7 linked regions of the Homo sapiens genome follow. The protein of the gene in region 6 purifies or fractionates together with the protein of the main gene of each other region. This does not show direct contact. Each region holds a gene or a part of one and is shown on either strand. Other genes may lie near its edges.

Evidence for each region.
Region 1: the proteins of TMEM63B (region 6) and SLC38A5 purify together in Homo sapiens (affinity purification with mass spectrometry; one large-scale study listed by BioGRID and IntAct). This does not show direct contact.
Region 2: the proteins of TMEM63B (region 6) and ATP2B1 purify together in Homo sapiens (affinity purification with mass spectrometry; one large-scale study listed by BioGRID and IntAct). This does not show direct contact.
Region 3: the proteins of TMEM63B (region 6) and TMPO purify together in Homo sapiens (affinity purification with mass spectrometry; one large-scale study listed by BioGRID and IntAct). This does not show direct contact.
Region 4: the proteins of TMEM63B (region 6) and TBC1D15 purify together in Homo sapiens (co-immunoprecipitation; one large-scale study listed by IntAct). This does not show direct contact.
Region 5: the proteins of TMEM63B (region 6) and SARAF purify together in Homo sapiens (affinity purification with mass spectrometry; one large-scale study listed by BioGRID and IntAct). This does not show direct contact.
Region 7: the proteins of TMEM63B (region 6) and SLC35E1 purify together in Homo sapiens (affinity purification with mass spectrometry; one large-scale study listed by BioGRID and IntAct). This does not show direct contact.

What each region holds. Positions count from the first base shown.
Region 1 is NC_000023.11:48,460,051-48,464,153, forward strand, and holds part of SLC38A5 (sodium-coupled neutral amino acid transporter 5), read right to left. Parts: intron 2,931-4,103; coding exon 2,848-2,930; intron 2,242-2,847; coding exon 2,183-2,241; intron 2,095-2,182; coding exon 1,957-2,094; intron 1,748-1,956; coding exon 1,668-1,747; intron 1,037-1,667; coding exon 936-1,036; intron 715-935; coding exon 599-714; intron 1-598. UniProt on the Homo sapiens protein: Symporter that cotransports neutral amino acids and sodium ions, coupled to an H(+) antiporter activity. Releases L-glutamine and glycine from astroglial cells and may participate in the glutamate/GABA-L-glutamine cycle and the NMDA receptors activation.
Region 2 is NC_000012.12:89,617,914-89,622,016, forward strand, and holds part of ATP2B1 (plasma membrane calcium-transporting ATPase 1), read right to left. Parts: intron 3,879-4,103; coding exon 3,636-3,878; intron 2,328-3,635; coding exon 2,086-2,327; intron 1-2,085. UniProt on the Homo sapiens protein: Catalyzes the hydrolysis of ATP coupled with the transport of calcium from the cytoplasm to the extracellular space thereby maintaining intracellular calcium homeostasis.
Region 3 is NC_000012.12:98,518,590-98,522,692, reverse strand, and holds part of TMPO (thymopoietin), read right to left. Parts: intron 1-4,103. UniProt on the Homo sapiens protein: May help direct the assembly of the nuclear lamina and thereby help maintain the structural organization of the nuclear envelope. Possible receptor for attachment of lamin filaments to the inner nuclear membrane.
Region 4 is NC_000012.12:71,912,459-71,916,561, forward strand, and holds part of TBC1D15 (TBC1 domain family member 15), read left to right. Parts: intron 1-621; exon of another isoform or gene 622-674; intron 675-1,367; coding exon 1,368-1,468; intron 1,469-4,103. UniProt on the Homo sapiens protein: Acts as a GTPase activating protein for RAB7A. Does not act on RAB4, RAB5 or RAB6.
Region 5 is NC_000008.11:30,080,033-30,084,724, reverse strand, and holds the start of SARAF (store-operated calcium entry-associated regulatory factor isoform 1 precursor), read left to right. Parts: upstream 1-1,660; 5' UTR 1,661-1,775; coding exon 1,776-1,878; intron 1,879-4,692. UniProt on the Homo sapiens protein: Negative regulator of store-operated Ca(2+) entry (SOCE) involved in protecting cells from Ca(2+) overfilling.
Region 6 is NC_000006.12:44,130,260-44,134,362, reverse strand, and holds part of TMEM63B (mechanosensitive cation channel TMEM63B), read right to left. Parts: intron 2,147-4,103; exon of another isoform or gene 2,077-2,146; coding exon of another isoform or gene 2,074-2,076; intron 1-2,073. UniProt on the Homo sapiens protein: Mechanosensitive cation channel with low conductance and high activation threshold. Osmosensitive cation channel preferentially activated by hypotonic stress.
Region 7 is NC_000019.10:16,565,547-16,569,649, forward strand, and holds part of SLC35E1 (solute carrier family 35 member E1), read right to left. Parts: intron 2,624-4,103; coding exon 2,486-2,623; intron 1,112-2,485; coding exon 986-1,111; intron 1-985. UniProt on the Homo sapiens protein: Putative transporter.

The sequences.
Region 1 (4,103 bases), on a different chromosome or scaffold from region 6:
CTTCCTGCCTCCATCCTCTGACAATCCACGTCTCTTCCTTCTGTCTGAACACCCATCGGCACCTGCACCCACTGTCTGAAATCCTTGCCTCCTCCTCTAGCTGACCATCTTTGCCTTCTCCTTCTGTCTGACCATCCACCGATCCTTCCACCCTGTGTGAGCTCCCTGCCTCTCTCCATCTGACCTCTACCTCCCTCCTCTGTCTAATTAGTTCTGCCTCCCCATCTGGGAGACTTGACCCTCCTACATCCCATCACTTCAGCCTCCACCCTTTTTCTGTCCATCCCTGTTTCTTAATTCTACCCTCCAACTGACCCTTCCTGCCTCCCTCTTCTTTCTAGCCATCCATCTGTGCCTCCTCCCTCCAACTGACTACCCTGTCCCCTGACCCTCTCTCTCCTGCTATCTATGTCCTCCCCACTTCTGTTTATCGATTTTTGCCATCTCTGTCCATCTGAAAACGCTGCCCTTTCCTGTCTGTCCATCCTTGCCTCCTTCATCCATCCATCCACTCCTGTTTCCAGCCTTGACCCACACATCCATGCCTATGCCCTCTACCCATCCATCCATGTCCCTCTCAGCCGTGGGCCCCACGCACAGGGAACAGCACGACTGGCACAGTGAGGGTCACCGCGAGCAGCACGGCCAGGCGCACACAGAGGATGAGCGGGTCCTTCTGGCTGTACATGTGCAGCATCTCCGCCTTCACACTGCCTGGGCCATGAGACAGAGGGTACGGGATGCAGGATGTGGAGAGAGCACCAGGACCAATGCCCCAGAAACCCATACATACATGCACAGTGACAAAATCCACACAAGTGAGGCACACCTTCTGTTTGGAAACTGACAGGTCCGTGGTCACAGAAGGAAAGAGCTCAGAGGCTCCTGCCCCAGGCCTTCCCCCTCCCCCCAGCCCTAGCCCCAGCCCCACTCACTGTAGAAGGTGAGGTATCCAAAGGTTGCTGTGAGCCCATACATGCAGAACATGGCCCCAATGGACACGTTGGCCACGGCCTGCATCCTGCGCTTGGAGGGCCTGAGGTGTAGAGGTCGTGGAACTGTCATGCCCAGACCCTGAGACTTGCCCCAGGTCCCTCAAAGCCAGCCTCCACCCTCCAGAGTCCCCTTCTCCCAGACTGCCATTCAGCTGGCACACATGGGGACACCCGTCTCTGCCTCCCCTGTGACTAGCCAAAATCCCCTCTCTGACCATCCATATCTCCCCCGATATGACTGTCTCCCTCTCCCCTGCGTTTGACTGCCACTGCCTCTTCCATCTGACCATCCATGCTGTCCCTCTGTCTGATCATCCACACATCTCCCATCATATCATCCCTGCCTCCGCCTCTGTCTGTCCGTACCTCCCTATCCCCATATCACCAGCCATGCATATCACCCCCTCCATCTGATCATCTGATCTCTGCTTCCCAACTCTGTCCATCCACATTTGTGCTGGATATTAAAATAGGAGAATACTTAAGCCCCAATCAGCAAACAGTCACTACCCTGAGTGCCCCAAGACCTCCTGGCCACCCCAAACCCCTCCCATGACACAACCTAGCTTCCACCAAGTGACAGTCCCAGGACTGCTGTAGGGAGTGTCAGACATTCTGGTTACCACCCCACTTGCTGGCCCATCATTCAGGCCCACTTGCCTGCCCACTCACCGGCAGAGCTCCGTATAGATGGGCAGCACCTCAGGGTGGCAGACAAAAGCAAAAGCCATAATGGGCACTGTGTAGGACATCTAGGGGAATGCCCGAGTACATGGGATTAGAGCCAACAGGGGTCCATCCCCTTCTTCCCATCCCCCTCCCGCCCCGTAATCGCCCTCCATATCAGACACATAGAAGCTCCCAATGTCGAATATCCAGCTCCACTCTGAGCAGGATGCACCATATGACAGAACCAGAGGGCCTGAGTGTGATGCAATCTCCTACATGCCTGCACACACACCTGTGAGTCAACTGTGAACATCTGGGCCTCACAGCTGCTGTTGAGTCCTTGGCTGGGGAGTCCCACGAGAGCTTCACTCTCCATTGCTGTTTCATTGTGGCCTATAGCACAGCCAAGTTGGAACTTCTTGTAGATGACCTGAGGATGGGGGCAGCAGGGAAGCCAGGTCATGGAGGAAGCTATGTCCCAATGTCCCAAACTCTCTCCCCGCTTCTCTGTGACTCACCGAAACAAGGAAAAACAGCATGCAGGTCAGAGAGAGACCACTGGTGTACCCCAGGTAGCCTAAGAGGGGCAAAACACAGAGTCTCAGAAATCAGCCAGGCGTGGTGGCTCACACCTATAATCCTAGCGCTTTGGGAGGCCTAAGCGGGTGGATCACCTGAGGTCAGGAGTTCGAGACCAGCCTGGCCAACATGGCAAAGCCCCATCTCTACTAAAAATACAAAAATTAGCTGGGTGTGGTGGCGCATACACCTGTAATCCCAGCTACTCGGGAGGCTGAGGCAGGAGAATCGCTTGAACCGGGAGGCAGAGGTTGCAGTGAGCCAAGACCACGCCATTGCACCACTCCAGCCTGGGTGACAGAGTGAGACTCGGTCTCAAAAAAACAAAACAAAACAAAAAAATCAATGGACCCCCGGAACAGTGAACTCCAAACACCTAGTCTAGCCTTCAAGGTCTACCCACCCCAGTTACCTTTGCATAAGCTTCTACTTCCACCCAGAAAAACCTCCCCTCCATAGCAAACTCCTACTAATCTGTTCAAGCCCACATCAAATAAGCTCTCTCCTAGTGTGCTGCAGCCCTTGAAAATGAATGGGGGTTTTCTCAGTCTGGCTTCTTCTGTCTAATCCCACTACCCAATGGCCAACCCAGGGAGCCTCTTACCCAAGTGTTTCATGAGGGCGAGGGGCAGGATGATTAACACACTGACGATGATGATGAGGAGGTTTCCCTTCAAGAACCAGTCCCTAGAGAGACAGGAAGACACAGTGCCTAGCTGCCAGCCAAAGGAAACTGTCAGGCAGACACTCACAGAAGACAGCTGGACAGGCAGCTTTCTGCCCTAAGTCAGGAGAGTTAAGCTGACAACCTCAGCTTGAGAAGTCATTCAGGTGGTCACAGTGACAAACGGCACAATAGGGTTGACAAAAACAGTCAAGCTGATTATGAGATTGTCAGATACTATCAGTGGGACACAGCTAACACATACACAGCTGGACAAAACTTGCCATCAGACTTCGCAAGTGGTTGCACAACCAGAAGGTCAAACACCCCAAATCAGTCAGACTCAATGTAAAAATCAGTCCAGGCCAGGTGTGGTGGCTCACGCCTGTAATCCCAGCACTTTGGGAGGCTGAGGCGGGTGGATCACCTAAGGTCAGGAGTTTGAGACCAGCCTGGCCAACATGGTGAAACCCTGTCTCTACTAAAAATACAAAACAAATTAGCCAGGCGTGGTGGGGAGTGCCTGTAGTCCCAGCTACTCAGGAGGCTAAGGCAGGAGAATGGCATGAACCCGGGAGGTGGAGCTTGCAGTGAGCCGAGATCACGCCACTGCACTCCAGCCTGGGCGACAAAGGGAGACTCTGTCTCAAAAAAATAAATAAATAAATAAATAGCCAGGTATGGTGGCGCGTGCCTGTAATCCCAGCTACTCGCGAGGCTGAGGCAGGAGAATCACTTGAACCCAGGAGGCAGAGGTTGCAGTGAGCCAAGATCGCGCCATTGCACTCCAGCCTGGGTGACAGATCAAGACACTCAAAAAAAAAAAAAAAAAGGAAGAAAGAAAGAAAAAAAAGAAGGAAGGGAGGAAAGAAAGAGAAAGGAAGAAAGAAAGAGAGAGAAAGAAAGAAAGAAAGAAAGAAAGAAAGAAAGAAAGAAAGAAAGAAAGAAAGAAAGAGAAAGAAAGAAAGGAGAAAATCAGTGCAACACAAGGTGCCAGACACAAAGAGAGTGAGTCACGATCGTGGTATGTCTGACAGGTAGAGCAACAGTCTGATGATCCAGTAGACAAGCCACGATGCAGAGTCCATCAAAAAGTCAGAAACACACATGCATGCTTGTTTGAACAGCTCAAGGTTTGTTGGATGCCTGAAAGTATGCCTGTGGACTGATTTGGCTGCACAGCCAAAGAAAGACTG
Region 2 (4,103 bases), on a different chromosome or scaffold from region 6:
ATCATCTCTCTACTATTAGCTCCTAAGTCCTATACATTTCTCCTCTGAACAGCCTCCTCAATGTGTCCACTCCTTTTTATTTCTCCTGCTACTACTTTCTTCTGGTTCTTACTTCAAGCTACAAAGCTACAGCTATTGTAATAGCAATAGCCTTTTAACTGATATGTCTCTAGTTGATTTTTTTTTTCCCTCTAACCCACCTTGTTCCCTGATGCAAGAATTATCTTTAATCACAGCTTTGATGATTCTACTACTTGAAGAAAAAAATACCTCATTTGCATTATCTGGCTTACTTCAATTTTAACTGCTCAGCCCAACATTTAAAAAGTCTCCACAACAAAATGCAAATATTACTGTGGGAACACTTGCTGTATGTTTACTGTCCACCAGGCTTCACACTAGACAGTTGGTATGCATTACTTCATTTAAGTGCCACAGAGTTGGTGGTCATCACCCGCTTTCTCAGATGAGAAAAATGGAAGTAAGGGAAAAATCTGCCCCATATCCAGAAGCTAGTTAGTTGCAGAGAAAGAGTCAATGCCTGATCAGTTTTGACTAAAAAAAATTCTCTCCTAAACCATCTATCTACTACCCAGCAAGCCAGGGTTGAAACAGATTTCTAACCTTTTCAATGAAATCAGGTAACTGAGTGTACTGTGGCAAGAAGAAAGCTGTATATGGCCTGTGTGCCACAAAAGCCCATCACTATTCAGCTGAACTATACAACCAGATATTCCCCTCCCCAGTATGACCTGCATATTCTCATCTCCTTTCCTCTGCTGTGGTTTCCCCACCTCGAAGTTCTCATTTCATACCAAAATCTATCTTAAATGCCACATCCCTACAGTGTGATCTCTCACCCAAAAACTTTGTACCAATTTATTATATGCTGCCTTCAGTTATTTATTTATATATTTGTCTCTTAAACTAATTGTAAAGTGTTCATTAATACTGGCTTATAATCCACATGTAAGCAAATTAAAAGTATATCTTAAACATTTACTTTAATATTTTAAATATTATAATTTCAAATGAGTTCCAATTTTCCCAACTTGCTCTTAACCAGTATTTTTTTTTAACCAGTTCTCTACTTCTTTAATGAAATTAAAGAAACTAAAATAATTTCACCACCTTTAATAACAAATAAACATCAGGGAAATTATATGTGAACATGTAATAACAAAATTAAAGCTACTGATCTGTAAAAGGACAGTAAGAAAAATTAGTATTCAAAATGACAGGAGATATTTAAATACGACACTGCAGCAGCATAAACATGATAAATCTCATTTTGATATAAATGGGGAATTTCCAAGATCCAGCTTTTATGCTTTGCTATTCTAAAAATTACTTCATAATTCTCTTATCACATTCAGAGTCCAGTAACCACAATGAGCGTTGAAGATCTAAACTTGAGGCCAGGTGCAGTGACTCACGTCTGTAATCCCAGCACTTTGGGAGGCCGACACAGGCAGATTACTTGAGGTCAGGAGTTCAAGACCAGCCTGGCCAACATGGTGAAACCCTGACTCTACTAAAAATACAAAAATTAGCCAGGCGTGGTGGCAGGTGCCTGTAATCCCAGTTACTTGGGAGGCTGAGGCAGGAGAATCCCTTGAACCCAGGGGCGGAGGGTGAAGTGAGCTGAGATCGCGCCACTGCACTCCAGCCTGGGTGATACAGGGAAACTCCACCTTAAACAAATAAAAAAAAAAAAAAAAAGAAAGAAAGAAAGACATAAACTTGATTTTCTTCCCAGGAGGCTTTTCAAGATTCTGCATATTAAATAACAAGTAAATCGACTTCTAAAAATAAACATCAAAGTATACTTCATTAAACATACCAGATTGAATGTAATGAGCTTATTTTCCCTATAACAAAATGCTAAGAAATAAGAGAAGCTAGAGTGTGAAAATGGCAGAATAGCAGGGGCAAATATCTGGATACCATAAAATATGCTAAAAAACTCTGAGGTCCTATCAAATGCCTGATGTTCACAAAAAGACAACAACAATAACAACACAGTAGATACTCCATAAAGCAACTATAGTCAGCAATTTATTCATCCAAGCATTTTACTCTTACTTTTTCAGAATTATCTCAGATGCACCCTTGCTGAATATTCGATAACTTCCATCTGAATTTTTCAGGACAGTACTCATGGACTTCCTAACAGAATTGAAGGTGTAGACTTTGTACAGTGCTTCTTCTGGTATTTCATTTCTAACATCCTGATAATCCCGTTTTAAATCCAAAAGAAGTCCCAACAAGGCACATTCAGTTTTATTACCAACGTGACGAGGTAATCCACCCTCTTTCTCTGGTGGCTATAAGAGAAAAACATTTAGTAGCTAGTATCTCGTTTCTCTAAGAACGTTTAATTTATAATGTAAAACAGACTGCGATATTCTAAAATAAAATTACAAAGCAATTGTCTAATATCAACATTTTAAAGAAGGATATAGAAAAGTAAGGTAGAAAGGAGCCTGGGGTGAGAATGACATGGATTCTAATCTCAGTCCTGCCAGTTACTAGCTACGTGAAATTTGACAATTACCCAACTGCTTTGGTCCTTGGCTTCAGCATCTGTAAAATAGGAGCACTTATGACCCCAAAATTAAGTGATATAAGATGTATGAAGTTTATAGTTGGTTCCTAATACAGAGTGGAACTTAATTTTAATTTCCTTTTCCTGTTTTCACTTAACTTTTATACTAAATCATTCAAAATTAAATCTACCAATTTTTATGGCTTAAAAGTACATTCATTAAAATACTGTTCTCTTAAATGCAGTGAGAAGCTTCAATTCCTTCATAGTGCCTTCAGAAATACCACTTTACATAATTATCACAATGGTATTAAGGGCAGATGTGATCATCTTTACTCAGTAATTAAAGAAGGTAGCTCAGACTTTCAGCTAGTAAAAGGCAAAGCTAGATCTAGAACCAAGATCCCATAACTTTCCAATGTAATCATCCAATTCATGTATGTTTTCCCTAATGAACAGCTTGCAATATTATTTTTGTTAATGATTTTCATCCATAAATCACTAGAAGAGATTAAGTCAAACATAACATCGCATTCTTTCTGTTATAAATAAGATTTTTAAAACTTGTAAGTTGAAAATTTTTTATTATATGGTGGCACAAGTCTAGAATTACTTTACTGCATTAGTTCTAAAAAGGTCTAAGGACCACCTTTTAGGTAGGAACTACTGAGAAACCAAACAGAACACATGGCAACCATATATAAAACATGTTATTTTAAGTTGAAATCGGCTTAAAAATTTTCTGTAAGTTGAGAGCTGACCTCCTATAGTAAGACAGTTTGATCTTTCTCAAAAATGAGCTTAACAAGAATTTAAAATTAAATACATGCTCTGGTTATAAGGCTGGAGAGTTTCTGAACACAGGAAATTCAAAATATAGGAGAAAAATGTAAGCAAACAATGTTTATGTTGATCAGCAGACCTCACTCATAACACAAATTTAAAAACCATTATATAAATAAATATATGCCTTTTAAAAACTTAACAGTTCAGTTTACATACAGTAATGGTGGTCTGAAGACTTACATATAGTCTGATCATTATAGATTTAAAAATTAATTTTCATAAATTATTTCAAAAACCTTACCAATATTTTTGATGTATAAGCACAATTCACAGAAATTCCTGTTACAAGATAGGACAAAATATTTGGTGGAATAGCTTCTGGTTCAGGAACCTTTTTATAATGTTTTTCATTTATGTAAGCTTGAACGACTGTCATTCTGTTCATTGTCAAAGTTCCTGTTTTATCTGAACAAATAGCTGTAGCATTTCCCATGGTTTCACAAGCATCCAGATGCCTTACTAAGTTATTATCTTTCATCATTTTCTACAGTGACCAAAAAAAAAAAACTAGTTAAGCTGCATATAAAACCAATCACCTCATTACATTAAAATGATTATAAATTGTTTTAAAATTAGAAAACTCCCAGCTTTCTATAAATACAATGTATAAAGTACCAATGTAATACTGAAATTTTTTTTTTTTTAGCATATTTGACCTATTAAAATAAGCTAAACACAGTACCAGAGCTTTCTGGGGTTTCAATCATTT
Region 3 (4,103 bases), on a different chromosome or scaffold from region 6:
TTAGTAACATTGCACTATATTGCCCTGACATTAAAGACAAAAATTCAGAAATCATTTAATGGCTATTAATTACTAAGCACTAGACACTTCACATATGCAATGGCATGTACTCCTCAATCTGATTAAGTAGCTATTAGGTTATTCCTCTATTTCAGGTGAAAATAGAGGATCTTAGATTAAGACACTGTTCAGTGTCATATGAATAAGTGGCAGACCTGGAATTTGAATCTATAACTCTATTATTCACAAGTCTGTAAACTTAACACCTTATTATACAGTGGTGGTAAATTTGTGATTTAATTAACATTTCCTATTGGTAGCATGCTTTTATGTTCTTTTCCAGGTCTTCAAATATTTCCTATTGAGAATTCATAATTTGGCCAGGAGCAGCAGCTCACACCTACAATCCCAACGCTTTGGGAGGCCTAAGCAGGAGGATCCCTTGAGGCCAGGAATTCAAGACCAGCCTGGTCAACATAGTGAGACTATCTCTATAAAAATTTTAAAAATCAGCTAGGCATGGTGGCACACACCTGTAGTCCCAGCTATTCCAGAGGCTTGAGCCCAGGAGTTTGAGGCTGCAGTGAGCTATGATCATACCACTGCACTACAGTCTGAGGGACAGAGCGAGACCCTATCTCTTAAAAAAACAAACAAACACACAGACAGGCGTGGTGGCTCACGCCTGTAATCCCAGTACTTTAGGAGGCTAAGGGGGGCAGATCACAAAGTCAGGAAGGAGTTTGAGACCGGCCTGACCAACATGGTGAAACTGTCTCTACTAAAAATAAAAAAATTAGCTGGGCATGGTGGTGCACGCTTGTAATCCCAGCTCCTCAGGAGGCTGAGGCAGGAGAATCACTTGAACCCGGGAGGTGGAGGTTGCAGTGAGCCGAGATCGCGCCACTGCACTCCAGCCTGGATGACAGCGCAAGACTCCTTCTCAAACACACACTCATAATTCACCAGAACAGATCATTCAAGAATATTATGCTCCACTAGATCCAAATAGCTACACCTTCAGGCTCTGCCTCTTAAAACAAAAAGGCAGACTGCCAACTCTGTAAATGTTTATTTTTGTGTCCACAATCTAGGTAGTTTCAACACCTAAAAATATTGGTAGCAAGATACATAAAATAAAAAGCTTAGAAATAAGAAAACAAAATAAAAACAAAACTTTTAACATGCAAAGTTTTGTCACATTATACCAAGTGAATCCAAGAGACTATGGTAGAAGCTGAAATGAAACAATTTCTTATTTAATTAAAAATGTTCCCCATAGGCTGGGCACGGTGGCTCACGTCTGTAATCCCAGCACTCTGGGAGGCTGAGGCGGGAGGATCAGAAGATCAGGAGATCCAGACCATCCTGGCTAACACAGTGAAACTCCGTCTCTACTAAAAATACAAAAAAATTAGCCGGGGGTGGTGGCAGGTGCCACCACGTAGCCCCAGCTAATCGGGAGGCTGAGGCAGGAGAATGGCGTGAACCCAGGAGGCAGAGCTTGCAGTGAGTGGAGATCACGCCACTGCAGTCCAGCCTGGGTGACAGAGCGACACTCCGTCTCAAAAAAAAAAAAAAAAAAAAAAAAATTCCTCATAAACCCATGATTAAATAGAAGGTATATGCATGCAAATAGTTAATCTTGGCCAAATCCACATTAATGCTTGATTTGTCTTAAAATGTTAAAAATCTCCCTTATCTGCAACTCTCAAACATAATTTGGCTTTCTCCTATAATATAAATAAATATTCTTTTATTCCTTTTTACCACTCCATTATGCAGAAGATTATAAATATTCTTTAAGAAATATGACCTGGAGGCCGGGAGCGGTGGCTCATGCCTGTAATTCCAGAACTCTGGGAGGCCGAGGCGGGCAGATCACCAGATCAGGAGATAGAGACCATCCTGGCTAACAGTCTTTACTAAAAATACATAAAATTAGCCAGGCGTGGTGGCGGGCACCTGTAGTCTCAGCTAGGCAGAGCTTGCAGGGAGCCGAGATTGCACCACTGCACTCCAGCTGGGATGACAGACTGAGACTCCGTTTCAAAAAAAAAAAGGAAAAAAGAAATAAGACCTGGTATTGGCCGGGTGAGGTGGCTCACTCCTGTAATTCCAGCACTTTGGGAGGCCGAGGCAGGTGGATCACGAGGTCAGGAGTTCGAGACCAGCCTGACCAACATGGTGAAACCTTGTCTCTACTAAAAATACAAAAATTAACCAGGAGTAGTGGTGTGTGCCTGTAAGTAATACCAGCTACTCAGGAGGCTGAGGTAGGAGAATTGCTTGAATTTGGGAGGCAGAGGTTGCAGTGAGCCGAGATCATGCCACTGCACTCCAGCCTGGGTGACAGAGTGAGACTCCATCTCTCACACACACAGAAGGAAGGAAGGAAGGAAGGAAGGAAGGAAGGAAGGGAAAAATATGGTTGGCCGGGCGCGGTGGCTCATGCCTGTAATCCCAGCACTTTGGGAGGCTCAGGCGGGTGGATCAACTGAGGTCAGGAGTTTGAGACCAGCCTGGCCAAGATGGTGAAACCCCGTCTCCACTAAAAATACAAAAATTAGCCGGGCGCAGTGGTGGGCACCTGTAATCCCAGCTACTTGGGAGGCTGAGGCAGGAGAATCGCTTGAACCCGGGAGGCAGAGGTTGCAGTGAGCTGACATCACGCCACTGCACTCTAGGCTGCGTGACAGAGCAAGACTCCATCTCAAAAAAAGAAAAAGAAAAAAAGAAAGAAAGAAAAAAAAAGAAATATGACCTGGTATTATTTTTATATGGGGCTAAAAATGACCAAAACGTAAAATATAGTACATATAAGAGGAATTGACATGAATAATTTTACACATAAATTATTATAAATTTCTTTTCCTGTAAACTTAAAATTATTTTTTCCTATGGCTGATAAAAACATCGAACAGACTCCTAATTATAACTCACTTGTACTTAACGTACTTTAAAACAGAAAATGACGCTGACTACCAATATTTTTCTTCAAGTTGTTGGCATGGCTATTAAGCTCAGTCAAGGGTAAACACCTCTTGAGTTTTAAATACTCCAGGTAGAAGACATTTAAACCTGTAATTATGAAGTAAGTTTTCTTTATATGGATGAAATAATTAAATGAAACGTAAAGAGCTTAATTACCATGCCAATAGACCTACTAGGTACTCTAAAAAACATGACTTCTGGGCTGGGTGCCGTCGCTCATCCTTGCATTCCCAGCACTTTGGAAAGCCCAGGGGGACAGATCACCTGAGGTCAGGTGTTCCAGACCAGCCTGGCCAACATGGCGAAACCCCTTCTCTACTAAAAATACAAAAATTAGCCGGGTATAGTAGTATACGCCTGTAATCCCAGCTACTCGGGAGGTCGAGGCAGGAGAATCATTTGAACCCAGGAGGCAGAGATGAAATCGGGCCATTGCACTCCAACCTGGGCAATGGAGACTCCGTCTCAGAACAAAACAAACAAAACAAAATAACAACAACAAAAATTACTTCATTTTGGCTGGGCGCGGTGGCTCACGCCTGTAATCCCAGCACTTTGAGAAGCCGAGACGGGAGGATCACGAGGTCAGGAGATCGAGGCCATCCTGGCTAACACGGTGAAACCCCATCTCTACTAAAAATACAAAAAATTAGCTGGGGGGTGGTGGCGGGCGCCTGTAGTCCCAGCTACTCGGGAGGCGGAGGCAGGAAAATGGCATGAACCCACGAGGCAGAGCTTGCAGTGAGCCAAGATCGCGCCACCGCACCCCAGACTGGGCGACAGAGCAAGACTCGTCTCAAAAAAAAAAAACCCTTCATTTTACTCAAAACTTATTTACATGATGCTAACCAACTTCAATTAACATATGAGTTGGACAGACAAGTAAATAAACACAATTCATTTTTAAATCCCCAAAGTTTTAAACCCAGTAGTTAAGAACACTTGGTAGGAACTCAAAATTGCTGGATAATCTTAATTAAAAAATTTTTACATTTAGGTCTTCTTACCCCCCAAAAGAACACAAGGTAGATGGGGACATAAACTCTCTTTTACCAAGTGGCTGATAGGAAAACATTAAAACTGAGATGGTTGTTTCTGTGTAAAAGAAA
Region 4 (4,103 bases), on a different chromosome or scaffold from region 6:
GACAGAGGCTCACAGCAAATTGAGCTGAAACTTTATTTGTAAGGAGATTCTGAGGTGATCTGAGTGCTTCTGTCTGTTGTGTGTTTGATCTGAGTTTTCTCAAGAGATTTAGTTTACCTGCTTTCTGAGATCATTTTTTAAAGTTTTCCTCCAAAACAGAGTAATGTGTAATTATGTATCATTTATATGATAGCAGAACTATCTCCTCCCTCTTTCATTAAATATTTACTTTTACATGGCTTCAGTGCAGATAGATTTTGGTGAATAAAAATGTAAACTTTGGATTCGCAAATGAAAGACTATTTTCCAGACTTCCCAAGCTACCAATAAAGAAATTTCTACATGATTTTAATAAATACACAAAAGTTACCGAAGTTGAATGATAACGTTTAAGTAAAAAGGCTTAGTATAAGTTCGTGTCCCTTCATTGGTTCAAGAACCTCTTAAGTCTGAAAATTTTTCAAGTCTTGAAAATTGTAAAACAAGGATAATTGAGGGTTTTATAAGAGGAAGTAAAAAAGAAGTTTGACATGTTCAGGTGAAAAAGTAAAACTAACACTTTTTCTTATTTTTAAGTGAGGGATCTGACTCCTTAATTTTCTAGTTTTTCTTTTAATCAAGGGCTCTATTACTGTCACCATTGAGAAATTGTAATAATATCAAGAGACATGTAGGTAAGTGGTCACTTTAGGTACAAAATATTGATTGGGTTAAGCCCAGTTGCTGGCATTGGTTGGGTGTAGAGAGTAACAAAAAAAGAAAGAAGGACGTAGATATGACTATTTAAAAGAGGCTCTTAATTTTGTAACTCCTGTTATGTGAATCTAAAGGTCTGATTGTTAAAGCAGTTGAACCCAAAGTTCTTGTTTTATGTGGCTTACTCATGGTAGTTTGGCATTGCTAACCACTCTGGGCTTGCAACTTTCTTGTTAATTTTTGCAACATTATTCTCGCTTGATTTTTTTCTTTACTTCTCTGACTGGTCTTTCTTAAACCTGTCTTTGAGTGTATACTCTTACATTTGATGTTCCTCTGGATTATCTCTTCACCCCTCTTCTTTCTCATGATGCTCTTGCACATTATTTTTAAAAATATTACCCACTCTTGATAGTGTATCTGCACTGAGACACGTACTGGAAGCTATATATTGTTTGACATCTCAATCTAAAACAACTCATCTTTCTTACTTATGACTAGAGTTCCTCCTCTTCATTTATATTCTTTTCTTGGTGAACATCAGTGTCTACCAATTTCTAAATGCAAAGGAGAAAGATACAATTTTAAGCGAAATGGTGGTGATATGCACAACTTGCAGAAGGTTACATAAAACTTGGGTTTTCAGAGATGATTTTTTCTTTTCTTTTTAGGATATGTTCAAGGAATGAGTGATTTACTTTCCCCTCTTTTATATGTGATGGAAAATGAAGTGGATGCCTTTTGGTGCTTTGCCTCTTACATGGACCAAATGGTAAGAACAGAGATTCCTTCCATTAAACTGATTTTTAAAATTTTAGTTGTATAATTTTATAGTATAAGGTTGATTTTTATATTTAGCCAACTATGATGGAACTTAAAAAAATTACCTCATGCCTTTTGTTACTTTTTCTTTTTAGTAGCCTTTCAAGGGCTTAGAAATACTGGTGGTATTTTTAATACAGGAAATAGTTTGTGCCTGTAGTATAGGAATAATCAGGATTTAATATCAGTAAATGCTTATTTTCTACTAAAGAGCCATGTGTCATTACAGAATATTGATAAAATAGATGAATTCAATTTTGTGGAATAGTTGAACTTTAATATCATCTGTTTCAGAGATAAAGCTTAGTCATGCCAAGTAATATCCTTACCTTTTGTGAAGATTTTGAATTTTGTCATTATAGTAACTGATTTTTCTCCAGATGTGTTTGAACTATTTGTAACTCTGACACTTTCTTAGGAATTCATTGTTATTTTCCCAGAAGTATGTGATTATTAGAATTGAACTGTCTATATATACATGTTAGTACAAAGAACATTTTATCTATTATCATTGTTAAATCTTTGAGACAGAGTTCTAGGATAATAGTGCAGAGAATATTGACAGGAAAATAAAAGAAAAGTCTCTTCAAGCAATCTCAGAAAAATAAAAGCAGAAGGGGTGAGACTAGATAAAGGCAGATGAAGTCCAAAGACCTGACTACATAGAGGTTGCTGTGTTTTTTCAAAATAACACTAACATACTGGATGCTGGGCCTTTATGTTGGATATTGAAATGGCTGGCTTGCTTGCAAGGGATAAACATTTTGAATCTAACCATCTGAAATATTTTCCTGTAATACAGGGTTTAACTCAGAGTTTCTGGGATACAAATGTGAAATTTGGAAGTGGTACCCTTCTCCTTTTTTCTTTACTTCTATTCTTTCCCTTTTGCTTGCCTATTTTTCTTTCTCCTTCAAATTTTCCCTGCTTGTGGCTATTTCCCCAAATCTCTTGTCCATAGATTCAACTTGTTTTTGCTTCTTTCAGTTTTTTTCTAAATGTATACTTGGTAAGATTTGATAGATTTAAAATGTTCTTTTACATTAAATTCATGAATATTCAAATTGGTTTTTTGCCATAAATTAATTTTTTTTGACTATTTGGAAGGATTATCAATGCAGTAATTTGGTAATGTCATAGTTTGTCTTCCTTCCTTTTTTGATTGATTTGTCTACCTTCTTAGTTCCATTTACTCCCAAGTGCTCTAGAAACCTGAGGCATTTGTTATAAAGGTCTGTACAGCTGATACTAATTACATAAAAACTGTTGTCTGCCTTCCTTGTGTTTTTGTTGTTTATCCTCTTTTCACCAGAGCTAGTATGTTCCTTGATAAAAGGGATTATATCTTGTTTCACTGGTAGCATACCAGAATTTTCCTAATGCCTGACATGAGGTTGTTCAACGGGTTTTTGTAGAATAAACATGTGAATCTTTCCCCAGTGATTAGTTTAAATTGCTATAGTAGATATTCTAAAAAAAAAAAAAAAAACACAACTAAGATGAACATACTGCATTTAGTATCATGCAATAAGTTTTCAATAAAACTAATCCAATATTGGCATGTAAATATATATTGACATATAATGCCACATACACACATGCATACAGACGTGTGTATATAGGTCTCATATGTAAAGACTACCTTCTGAACATGTGTAATAAACACTTTACAGTCCGTCATTTTTTGTGTATGAAGGTTCAGTTTCTTTGTTCTGTCATTTTCACAGTAAATGCTCTCTGTGTTTGCCTTTTCCATTAAGGATGTTCTGGGGATTTTTCTAGTCTTTATTCTAAAAAAGATATCTTATGATTATGTTGTCTGCTAACATCTTTTCTTTCATAATATTTGAATGAGAGGGAAATATATGGCAATCAAAATAACCTGTATGATTGTTTTTCACTGCATTGCCCTTGTTTGATGTCCCTAAATCTGTGCTGCTGTTTCTTGATTCTGTGTTTCTGTTTTATAGCTTTACTTCATGTAAGTTTGTACTACCTTTGTGGTGGCTGAACCTAACGTCTGTAAATTTACTTTTGTTGATGTTTACTTGCATCTAATGTAGGTCTAGGCATAGACTTTGTCTATTATCATGGAAATACAAAGTACAAGTGATCTGATGAACTTTGTTATACCCATCATCCATTTTGCCATATAGTTTTAATTCCTTTCTCCTCTCCATCTCCCCCTCCCCTGCCCCATACAGACACATTTATTTACAGACACATTTGAAGCCCTTTGTATATCCATTGTTGATCCCACTCTCCCTTCTCCAGGAGTAACCACTTTTTCGAATATGGTGTCTGTCATTATGGACATGTTTCTTTTTTACAGCAGAGTGGGTAGCAAATGTCTATGCCATGTTGGTATTCCCAGATCAGCTCTAGTCTTTGACTGTGTCACAGCAAAAATGATCCTGTTAATCAGAGTTGATTCTGCCCCTTCTCTATAGATCTCTCTGGTAAATGTGGAGGAACTATATCCTAAAGCCTTGAGTTAGTCTATTAATAAACTGGTTTTTAAAATTCATTAAAGAGAAACAGCTTATTGAGAATTAATAGACTTAAATTTTTTTTAAGAATGAATT
Region 5 (4,692 bases), on a different chromosome or scaffold from region 6:
TTGTCCCCCAAATTTTGTTTTATTCACTGCTGTATCCCCAATACTGATAACAGTGCCTGGCAGGTACTGTTAGGTACTAATAGGTGCTCAATATAATAATCTGGTAAACATAAAGTGTTTTTTTGAGTTCTGTGAGCCATTCTAGCAAATTATGGAACTCAAGATGGGGGGTTATGAAAACCCCAATTTATTTGTTGAGAGGGAGTCTCTCTCCATGGTCCAGGTGCAGTGGGGCAGTCTTGACTCACTGCAACTTTCGCCTCCCAGGTTCAAGCGATTCTCTTGCCTCAGCCTCCCAAATAGCTGGGATTACAGGTGTGCACCACCACGCCCAGCTATTTTTCCTATTTTTAGTAGAGGTGGGGTTTTGCCATGCTGGCCAGGCTGGTCTTAAAGTCCTGACCTCAGGCGATTCACCTGCCTTGGCCTTCCAAAATGCTGGGATTACAGGCATGAGCCACCACGCCCGGCCTGGAAACCCTAATTTATAGCTGGTTGGTCAGAAGCATAGGTCACAACCTGAGACTTGTGATTGATGTCTGAAGTTGGGGCCATCTTGTGGGACTGAACTCTTTATAGGATCTGACCAAATAACTCTTCCTCGAAACACAAAGTTAGGGCTTTTGCATCCACTGTTCCCCAGATGGGAAGATGAGTCCCCTGATCTTTGTACGGCTAGTTCTTTCTCATCATTCAGGTCCCAAGCTTCAAAAACCACTTCCTCAGCAAGGCCCTCCCTGAAGTTGTGTCCCCAGGCTCCATTATATCACCCTGTTTTTCATCAATGTTATTACCTATCATTACCTATTATTTTTGTTGTTTAATTGGTATGTCGTTTGTCCTATTCTATTTCAATGAGTACAGGGATCTTGTCTGTACCATCCATGCCTAAAACAGTGCCTGGTGCGTATTAGGTATTCAACATATATTCATTGAATGAATGAATGAATGAATGAATGAATGAATGAATGAAAGAAACCCAAGCCTGCTAGACCTCAAAAGCCCAGAGAACTGTTTTCTCTGGCTGGTTCTTCATTCAGACGATATTTTCTCCTCTTGACATTTTATAGTCTTCCGGCCTCCATGCGCAAGGAACCATGTAAAGGTTCTGAGCCTTGAAACCAGACAATGTATTTCCCTGTTACTTTTCGCTTGAATCTTCTCTGTATTTAGCAACCAGTCATAGAACACTAACCATGTACCAAGCGCTATGCTAAGTGCTGAACACATAGAGCTGAATAAAGCACAGAACTACCCTTGGTACAATTATTGAGGTTTTAATAATACATAATTTGACTACATTTCTTAGATTTCGCGTCGTGACGTTTTCAGCCTCTCAAACTGCATCGCCTACGCACAGAAGCTTCCCGAATCTCAGACGAGACACAACAAAGCTGCGCGCTGCCCTCGCCCCGCCCGCGGGCGCGGCGGCGACAGGCCCTCGGCCCCGCCCACACCGCGGCGCCACGCCTCCAACCCGCCTCCAGCCGTGCCTCCCCAGGCCCTTGGCCCCGCCCACACCGCCTCGCCCCGCCCCAAGCCGCGCTGTGCTCCAGGGGCGGGGGCCCACGGCGGCCACTCACTGAGCCCCACGGGCCGCAGCGGCAGTGACGTAGGGTTGGCGCACGGATCCGTTGCGGCTGCAGCTCTGCAGTCGGGCCGTTCCTTCGCCGCCGCCAGGGGTAGCGGTGTAGCTGCGCAGCGTCGCGCGCGCTACCGCACCCAGGTTCGGCCCGTAGGCGTCTGGCAGCCCGGCGCCATCTTCATCGAGCGCCATGGCCGCAGCCTGCGGGCCGGGAGCGGCCGGGTACTGCTTGCTCCTCGGCTTGCATTTGTTTCTGCTGACCGCGGGCCCTGCCCTGGGCTGGAACGACCCTGGTGAGTGCTGCCAGGGCCCTCAGGCGCTTCGTTCGCCCTTTTCCGCCGCCGTCAGCCGGTGCAGGCTCCCCTGCGTTTCCGTGCGCCGTCTTCCCGGAGCCTGGGTGCCCGGATTCCCCATGTCTGACCTCTTTGCTGTTCGTGCTCTCCCTGGTTCCACTGCTCTTCCCAGGCGTCTTGGGAGGCGGGTAGGGACTGCTCGAGTGGGCGGGGCGGGACGGCTGGAGATCCTTAAGGTCCCCTTTCTCCCTGCCCCGGACTCCCGGAATTTGCCCATTGTCGTCTTTCTCATCTCTGAGTATAACTGGAGAGCTGGACACTCACCTGCGCATCTGCTTTGTTGTTATGGCTGTGTGATGTCATCGTGGCCTGCTGTTGTCATGGCTGCCTGTTGCTATCGCCGGCCGTTGCCTGCCACTGGCAGTCTCTGAGTCACCCTTAGCGGACAGGGCTGCAGACCTCGCAGGTCTGTTAGCAGAATCGCAGATTGCACTCTTTTTTTTTTTTTTGAGTCGGAGTCTCACATTGTCGCCCCGGCCGCACTGCAATGACGTGATCTCGGCTCACTGCAACCTCCGCCTCCTGGGTTCAAGAGATTCTCCTGCCTCGGCCTCACCGGTAGCTGAGATTACGGGTGCCCACCACCATGCCTGGCTATTTTTTTGTATTTTTAGTAGAGACGGGGTTTTACTATGTTGGCCAGGCTGGTCTCGACCTCCTGACCTCGTGATCCACCCGCCTTCATCCTCCCAAAGTGCTGGGATTACAGGCGTGAGCCACCGCGTCTTTATGAGAACCGCTGCCTCTTATCTGACGATTGCAGTGATGTACATCGCGCGGCACCAGCTCTTCCCATTGGCTTTCACCGTAGAGAAGAATTTAAAAAATAATTTTCTCGGTTTTTTTTAGTGATGGTACATGATAAGTGGGTTTTAGGAAAGAGGTTCTTTTATGTCAGTACAGTATTAAAATTGTCTAAAGAATTTTCATGGGATCAGTAATATTCCGTGCAATTAATACGTATATGTCTATATACTTAGATACAGATTTTGACTTTTTCCATGTAATAAATGACGCATGCTGTTACTTTGGAATTCTGTAAAAAAAAAAAAAAATGAAAACAACATCATTTTTGCTTTGCGAAGTAAAGATGGCATGGAAAGCATATTGCCTTTGTGATTTGGTGATTGGAAATGCCTGCATTGTCGAATTTAAGCAACAGGTTTATTTCTATAATAGCCTATTCTTACATGCTGAAATGAGAGAGAAGGTGCTATTTGCAAGCACATCACGTTGAGTAGTCATTTGATGTGGACATTTTATTACCAAAAATAAAAAGCCAAGTTGTATTTAAATGTCTGTACGTTTTTCTTTTGTATTTCTAGAAAGCTGTGTATGAGTGGGAGACTTGATCAGAATTACAAGTGAAAACCTAGAATGAAACTTTAATTTGTTGAACTTTGAATCAGTTCGTAAATAAATTTAATAAAGGAAGTTTACAGTTGAAGAGCCAGAAGAACTATAAAAACTATGAAAGAAGAACCAAATTTAAATTAAAGATGAACCACTTCCTGGTTTATCTACGCTGTAAAACTATTGTTCTGGAACACAAAGCACCACAATATTTTGCAGAGTAAACTCAATTGTTTTATGTAAATTCTACTTCAAAGTTTACTTTGAGGAACTTTTTTGTTTTGTTTTGTTTTTTTGAGACAGTTTCACTCTTGTCGCCCAGGCTAGAGTGCAATGGCGCGATCTTGGCTCACCGCAACCTCTGCCTCCTGGGTTCAAGCGATTTTCCTGCCTCAGCCTCCCGAGTAGCTGGGATTACAGGCATGTGCCACCATGCCCGGCAAATTTTGTATTTTTAGTAGAGACAGGGTTTCTCCATGTTGGTCAGGCTGGTCTTGAACTCCCAACCTCAGGTGATCCGCCCGCCTTGGCCTCCCAAAGTGCTGGGATTACAGGCGTGAGCCACCGCACCCGGCACTTTGAGGAACTTTTTAAATGAAGATACTTTATTGACATACTATTTATTAAGTCCTTTACTAAAGCATTAATCGGCTCCCTAATTTATCTTTTGTTTGACTTGGATGCCATTACTTTAGCTCACATTGAGCAGTAATTTGTCTGGAAAAAAAAATTAGCACCATTCTAAAGAGATTACCAATGAATTTTCAAAATTCCTTATTGAATGTAATCTTATATTAAGTTACTCTTCCGGGTGTTGGGAATATAGCAGTGAACAAAACAGTGTCTTGCCTCCAAGGACTTTACCTCTATTGGGGAGAAATAGACAATAAACAGATAAACATGTAAATAACATGCTATATTGTGAAAATTGGTATGCACCGTGTATGATAAACAGCGTAAGGAGGACATGGTGTGCGGGCAGAAGTGGAGACTTAAAAAACGTACATTGGTCAGGGAAGTCACTGTTAGGGTGACATTTGACTGGAAACCTGAAGTGGGGAGGAGGAGTAAATGACCTGAAATTACTTATATCTTTAAAGGCTCATTTGGGCTGCTCTGTGGAAAACAGACCGAAGAGGGTAGGAGGGAAGCAGGGAAACCAGTGAATTAATATATATTGCTATCTATTTTAATATTGTACAGTAAGTTCTTAGAGTGGTGACCGCTTGGCCCAGGGCAGGAGCAGTAGAGAGCTGGTTAGAGTAGCTGGATTCTCTTGTCACCTGTTTGGAAGGTGGAGCTAACATGATCTTCTGAAGGATCAGATGTAGGAGTGAGAGGAGAGAAGATGAGAAGTCCAAGGTTTTTGGCTTGAGCAACTAGAAGCATGGAGTTAACCAT
Region 6 (4,103 bases):
CCCCACCCTGGGTCTGGGGAACTCAGTCTAGATGCCAGGCCTGGACTGGGGAGGCTGGTTTCATTAAGCTGGAAGGTATCTGTGATTTTCTAACATCTATCTAAATCCCCCCTGCCGCCGCCACCCCCACACTCTCATTCTCTCTGTCTTAGGGCAGGGGGCGGAGCTGAGCCTGGGAAGACAGGGAGGGGTCTTAGGCCTGAGGACTCAAGGGTAAGATGAGGGGTCTCCACGTCAGGGGAGAATGGGTCAGGAGCCAGCTGCCTCATCCTGATCTTTTCTTTCTATGCCTATTAGAAAAAATGGCATGATTTCATTTGGTTAGAGTTTTGAACTCAATATAACTGGCTTAGGTTCGACGATGGGTCAGAGTAGGAAGTCAAGTAAATAGTAGGACTTCTGGGTTTGAGTTACCTGCCTGGCCCCAGCCACTCCTGCTTATTCTCATTTCTCTTCCCCATACCATAGTCCTCTCTCCAGTTATTTGCACAGGGATCGCCTGAGTGTTATGAGCACTACAACTCCCAGAGTGCCATGCTCCTGCCTCTGAAGCAGGGAAGGCTGGGAAAGCTATGCCCTACGGCAAGCTTTTCCACTGGCAAAGGAGGGGGGAGTGGGTGGGGGCCTCTTAGCCTGCCTGGGCAGCCAGGGTGCTGCCTGGTTGCCTGCAACTGGCCGGCTGCATTGATGCTCAGAGTGGATGGGGTGGGCAGGAGGAGAAAAGGGACAGCCAGCCTGAGTGCCTGGGTTCTCAAAGTGCTTGGGGACAGAGCAGAGTGGGGCCCTGGGGAGGATCCCAGGATAGCGGAGAAGTGTGGCCTCAACAGATGCAGCACTGCCCCACCCATTTTACTGGGGGGTCCCTGGGGGACCCTTCTGCTGACAACACTGAAGCTCTGCCTCGGGGGCGGGCTGTGGAGCAGGGGAGGAGGTCCTCAGGGAAGAAAAAGGAAAACCAAAGAGAACAACAAAACTAGAAACAGTGACTGCAACTTCGGGAGCAGCATCCCTTAGCCCCCAGGGGGACTCAGAGGGTTTCTCCTGCCTCTTCCTAACACTTCAACCACAGGGCAAGAGGCAGAAGCCCTCAGATGGAGGGGAGGATGGAGTTGTTTATGTGTTTCACTTGGTCCCAGGGAGTCTCTGCAAAGCCTGGATTAGGAAGACTAAAGGAGTGTGTGCTGGTGTGTTATGCCTCTTCCTTTTCCAGTCCAAGCTGCCTTTAAAAACACACTAATTTAGTAATTGTATTGGGTACCATTTGTCCAGTGCCCTCAGTTTCAAGAATAATATATTACATGATTTCATTTAATCCTCGACGATCCTGAATTGAGTGTCACTGACATTTTAGGGTGGGGGCACAGGGCCTCAGAGGTTAAGTAACTTTCCCAAGGTCACACTGCTAATAAAATGAGGGACCTAGGACTCAAACCTAGCTCACCTTCTTTCTAAAGCTAGAATGATTTTCAGGGCACCACGGTGCTTTTCTGATGTTCCTAGAACAGGACTCGGCAGACCATGGAAGCTTTATAAATGCTCATTAAATGTTCTCAGGCCAGAGAACCTGTGGGTGCTGTGGAAATGTGTGTGTCCAGGTATGTAAATGTGTGTTGATGTGTGGACCTGTGTCCAGGAGGAGCTAGGTGACTGCATGGCAGTCCACGGAAATGAAGGGAGTTGTTGGCTTCGAAGTGGGGGTGTGAACATGGGTGTGTCTGGGAGCCCGGGTATGTAAACATAAGATGCACAGAACCCTGGGGCACTATGGGAGGTTAAAGGTAGGTATAGGTATCTTGGGTTGGGGGGACTCTAACTAGTCCCCCTTTCTCAATTCTCAACTCCAATGTACTCCAGCAATCTCAACACTCTATTCCCACCCCTTGCCTGTTTCTCTCTCTGAATTCCAAGGCTCCATCAGATCAGAATGAAATGAGAACAAGCCCCAGAGTACCATTCCTATCAACTCCTGTCTTCTCCACACCAAAGAAAGGTAGAGCATTTTGGAAGCTTCTACATGAAGTGGCCCCAGCAGGGTGGACAGGATCTAGCTAGATGGTTAGTAACTGAAATCACCATGCTCCTCTGCTGTCCGCCTCCTTGGGGTCACAAAGTACTCTCCCCTCCACAACAGCATTAATCTTCCCACCTGCATGGGAGGAAGGCAGGGCACACTCAGATCACTATCCCCATTTTACAGGGAGGAAGCAGGAACCCAGTAGGGGAAGCAACTTGCACAGTGACAGGACAGGTAAGGGGTGGAGCCTGGGCTGGCAGCTCTGCCAGTTGACAGGGCTGCTCCAAGCTTTTAATTGTGGGGGTGGGGTTGCTGGGTTGAGTTTCATCAAGGGCAGCTGCTCTCAAAGCCAGCACTGGGCTGAGCAACTGAGAAGAGGGAAGACATTGAGGCAGAATACCTTGGGGATGGGAGGTGGCAGTTCTTCCACTCCACGAGGTGCCTGCACCAGCTATATCCCAGTTTCTCTAGTCTGATATTGAGGTTTTGGTTGAGGTGTGTCCAGAGAGTGATGGAGCATTTTACTTCTAGCTAACTTTTTAATTTTACCATTAAGGAGTGTGTGCATGGTGGGGGTTGGAGAGCTATAACTTATAAGCTTTTTTTTGGGGGGGTTGTTGTGTATTTTTTTGAGACGGAGTCTCGCTCTGTCACCAGAGTGGAGTGCAGTGGCGCGATCTTGGCTCACTGCAACCTCTGCCTCCTGGGTTCAAGGGATTCTCCTGCCTCAGCCTCCTGAGTAGCTGGGACTACAGACACATGCCACCACGCCCAGCTAATTTTTGTATTTTCAGTAGAGACAGGGTTTCACCATGTTGGCCAGGATGGTCTCGATCTCTTGACCTCATGATCTGCCCACCTCGGCCTCCCAAAGTGCTGGGATTACAGGAGTGATATAAGCTTTTTCAGTGGAGTTACTGGGCAAGATTTAAGTTAGGGCTTTGGATCAAAGCAAGGCCATGTGGTCTGAGGGGAGGAGGGGAAGATGGAAGCGAGCTCTGTTACTACGAAACCTGAGTCTCAGTCTTCCAATCTGTAACAAAGAGATACAAATATCCTTACTCTACCCCTACCCACTTCAGAGAGAAAGGCAAGAATATATCCACAAGTGAGCATAAAAGTAGTAGTAGGTGCCAGGCACGGTGGCTCACACCTGTAATCCCAGCATTTTGGGAGGCCGAGCTGGGCAGATCACAGGGTCAGGAGTTCGAGACCAGCCTGGCCAACACAGTGAAACCCCGTCTCTACTAAAAAAATACAAAAATTAGCTGGGTGTGGTGGCATGCGTCTGTAGTCCCAGCTACTCGGGAGGCTGAGGCAGGAGAATCACTTGAACCCAGGAGGCAGAGGTTGCAGTGACCTTAGATCATGCCACTGCACTCCAGCCTGGGCGACAGAGTGAGACTCCATCTCAAAAAAAAAAGTAGTAGTAGGCAGGGTGGGGTGGCTCACCCCTGTAATCTCAGCACTTTTGAAGGCCAAGTGGGGAAGATACCTTGAGCCTAGGAGTTGGAGGCTGCAGTCAGCCATGATCATGCCACTGCACTCCAGCCTGGGCAAGAGAGCAAAACCTTGTCTCGAGGGGAAAAAAAAAAAAAAGCCAGGCATGGTGGCTCACACCTGTAATCCCAGCACTTTGGGAGGCTGTGGTGGGAGAATCACGTCAGCCCAGGAGTTCGAGACCAGCTTGGGCAACATAGCAAAACCCCGTCTCTACAAAAGATACCCCCCACCACCAAAATTTAGCTGGGCATGCTGGTGCATGTCTGTAGTCCCAGCTACTCCGGAAGCTGAGGTGCGAAGATCACCTGAGCCCAGGGAGTTCCAGGCTGCAGTGAACCAAGATCATGCCACTGCACTCCATCCTGGGCGACAGACAGAGACCGTGTCTAAAAAAAAAAAGGAAAGAAAAAAGAAAAACAGAAAAAGAAAAAAAAGTAGTAAAATAATAGTATTAAATGTTTATTTAACTCTTCTTTTGTGCCAAGCACTGTTCTAAGCACTTTACAAATGTAACTCATTTGCTCCCCATCACAACCCCAGGAGGACACTGAGATACAGAGAGAGTATATGAGCTGCTCAAGGTCAC
Region 7 (4,103 bases), on a different chromosome or scaffold from region 6:
TCCCTCTGTCACCCAGGCTGGAGTGCAGTGGCACCATCTCGGCTCACTGCAACCGCCACATCCTGGGTTCAAGCAATTCTTCTGCCTCAGCCTCCCAAGTAGCTGGGACTACAGGTGCGAGCCACCATGCCTGGCTAATTTTTGTATTTTTGGGAGAAACAGGGTGTCACCATATTGGCCAGGCTGGTCTCAAACTCCTGACCTCGTGATCCGCCCGCCTTGGCCTCCCAGAGTGCTGGGATTACAGGCGTGAGCCACTGCGCCCGGCTTTTTTTTTTTTTTTTTTTTTTTTTGGCCAGTGCATAGTTTTCAAAGTTCCAGGGCTGGCAAGGCACAGTGGCTCACATCTGTAATCCCAGCACTTTGGGAGGCCAAGGCAGATCTCTTAACGCCAGGAGTTCAGGACCAGCCTGGGCAACATAGTGAGACCCTGTCTCTCCAAAAACAGTAAAAAAACAAAAATCAAACAAAAAAAAATTAGCCAGGCATGGTGGTATTCGCCTGCAGTCCCAGTTACTCGGGAGGCTGTGGGAGGATCGCTTGAGCCCCGGATTGAGGTCAAGGCTGCAGTGAGCCATGATTGTGCCACTGCACTCCAGCCCTGGCAACAGAGCGAGGTTCTGTCTCTAAAAAATAAACATTTAAAATAAAAAATGAGTAAAAATAAAAAGTCAATGTGCTATCTGGACTATACTGTCAGGAGGTGAAAGAGTCACCTTCTCTTCCTTGACGCTACTGGCGCACACACAGCAGCTATCAGCACCTGGGATCAAGCACACCAGAGAAGGAAATACACAGGAAACCCACTTCCTCGATGGCGTGCATCGTCACCGTGAGGCATTACAGAGGACTGACTGCTGAAAGCGCTGGCTGTCAGGTGCCCAAAAGATACCACAATGTTAACATGCAGCTACAGCTCCTCAACAAAGCACCTATTCTGGAACTAGCCAAGAAAATGGCGTGTTCTTGGTGCTGTACAACTCACCAAGTCGCTGCTGACCAGGAAAGCCGAGAGGTCCACCAGAACCCAGGTGGGGATCATAAAGAAGACGGCGTGGCAGCCCAGGATGTTGAGCAGCCGGAGATGGTGGATCCGTGAATCTCGCAAGACCTGGAAAGGGAAAGCCTCTTTAGAGGGTGATTAAAACTATATGTGGCAAAAAGGGCTCCAGTGACTCAGGCCCCAAACACAGTGACTGGACATTAACCCTGACATCTGAGCTTGGACACCAAACCTGCAAGTGCATTTGTGAGGACATACACAGCACAGGCCTGAAACAAGCACCATGCTCCACGCATAAACGACTGAGAAAAGAAAACAAAAATAAAACAGTAACACTCAGTGCTGGTGAGGATGAAGTGAAGTAGGCACTCTGAAATTCCACTGGTTTGAGGCTGAATTGGTATAACCTTTCTAAAATACGACCAGACAAACCATATTAAGAGTGATTAACGTTTCATACCCTCTAACCTGAGAACTGTAAGCCTATCATAATGAAATAACTGAGACAGGAAAACATCACACACGTGATTGTTTCTACATTACAATGAAAAGTTGGAAATAAGTGGTATTTCCAATAGAGAGACTGCATTAACTGTGGTACCTGAAAAGTGTGTGATTATCACAGGAGTTAAGAGCAATTTTTTTTTTTGAGACGGGGTCTCACTCTATTCCTATTGCCTAGGCTGGTCTCGAACTCCTAGCCTCAAGTGATCCTCCTGCCTTGGCCTCCCAAAGTGCTGGGATTATAGATGTGAGCCACTGCACTAGGCTTCAACAAGTTTTAAAATCTTGTTTTAAATTGAAGTTTTTAGCTAGGCCTGGTGGCTAATGCCTGTAATCCCAGTGCTTTATGAGGCTGAGGTGTGAGGATCACTTGAGCTTCGAAGACTGAGGCTGCAGTAAGCTATGATTGTGCCACTGCACTCCAGCCTGGGCGACAGTGAGCCTTGGTCTCAATAAAAGAGCTTTTCTTTATTTTTTTCTTATTGAGCACATTAACTTTATAATAGAAAAACTTTTTTTTGTTTTTGAGATGGAGACTCACTCTTGCCCAGGTTGGAGTGCAGTGATGCAAAATCTCAGCTCACTGCAAGCCCCGCTTCCTGGGTTCAAGCAATTCTTGTGCCTCAGTGTCTGGAGTAGCTGGGATTACAGATGCGTGCCTGGCTAATTTTTATGTTTTTAGTAGAGATGGGGTTTTGCCATATTGGTCAGGCTGGTGTTGAACTCCTGGCCTCAAGTGAACCGCCCGCCTTGGCCTCCCAAAGTGCTGGGATTATAGGCATGAGCCACTGCGCCCGGCCAGAAAAACAAACTATTTAAAAAGCAAAATGACAAACAGAAAATCAGCAGAATGGCAATCAAGATTTTTCTGCTCTAATAGCAAAGAAATTTCTACTCCGCCTGTTTTCCCAATGCCACCAGTTTGCTGCCCGCACACCCCTGAAACCCCATGCATGTCCGCTGATGGTGACCAAATACCTTTTTGGAGAAAATGTTCTGAAGCGAGAAGCACAGCGTGGCGGCGAGGGCGCTGACGAGTCCCCACATGTCAAAAGACAACTCGGTGACGGTGGCCAGCAGGACACCGCTGATGATGGGGATGAGTGACAAGTATACCTGCAGGAAGAGGTCATCAAGAAGGGCTCACAGGCCAGACTAGAGCTGGGCCACATGCCACAGATGCCCAGGGAAGAGCCCCTCTCCTCCCTCAGCAAAGGGATACCACCTAACACTTTGAAAGTGGTGTTTGCTGTGCCAGTGACGCTCTGGTGGGTGGCTGGGGGCAGGTGGTTATCAGAGCGCCAGGGGCAGGGCTTATTTGTGGGTAGCCCCATCCCCATACCGTCACCCCCATTAAGAGCCTCTGCTCAGGGCCACAGCCCGGGGCTGGTCCTAACTCCACAGATCTGTTCAGCTGCCACTGACGCACCAGGGTTTGAAGCCCTGATCCTCTATAAGGCTCCCCCATTCCCTCTTTTTAAAAAATAGTTTTTTTGAGACAAAGTCTCGCTCTGTCGCCCAGGCTGGAGTGTAGTGGCACAATCGTGGCTCACTGCAACCTCTGCTTCCCGGGTTCAAGCGATTCTCCTGCCTCAGACTCCCCAGTAGCTGGGATTACAGGGATGTGCCACCACGCCCGGCCAATTTTTTTGTACTTTTAGTAGAGACAGGATTTCGCCATGTTAGCCAGGCTAGTCTTGAACGCCTGATCCACGTCATCCATCCACCTTGGCCTCCCAAAGTACTGGGATTACAGGTGTGAGCCACTGTGCCCAGCCCCCATTCCCTCTTACTTCAGGCTCTTCCAGTATGGTTACTCCTGGCTGGCACACTCCACTGATGCCTTCTCCTCCCAGTGACCTCCTGCCTCCACAAGGAGTGCTTTCTCCAACCCACCTCCACCTTGGGAGGCTCCTGTGCTGTGCTCCCAGGGCCACTGCCTGGACTTCCCCAGCAGAGAGCTCTCCACTCACTCTTTTTTTTTTTTTTTGAGACGGAGTCTCGCTCTGTCACCAGGATGGAATGCAGTGGCATGATCTCGGCTCACTGCAACCTCTGCCTCCCAGGTTCAACCGATTCTTCTGCCTCAGCTTTCTGAGTAGCTGGGACTACAGGTGCCTACCACCACGCCCAACTAATTTTTGTATTTTTAGTAAAGATGGGGTTTTGCCATGTTGGCCAGGATGGTCTCGATCTCTTGACCTCGTGATCTGCCCACCTTGGCCTCCCAAAGTGCTGGGATTACAAGCGTGGGCCACCGTGCCCAGCCTCTCCACCCACTCTGTCTGTTACATCATCCGGTCCCGTTAGTGTACCTTAGAGCAGGTCCTTGTTCACTGCTTTATCCTGGTGCCTAGCACTCAGTAGGCACTCAATAGCTGCTAGCTGAATGAACGAGTAGCAAACATAGTGACAGAGAGCCTTCTAGAAGGTCTGGCATGCAGGGCTAAACAACTCCCAACTTCCAGGATCCACCAGGATCCATTCCCGCGTGTCCAGCTCTTCTGACTCTCGGCTCAATCCTGTCCTACAAAGAACACTCTTCACTTTGGGAGGCTGAGGAGGGCAGATCACTTGAAGTCAGGAGTTTGAGACC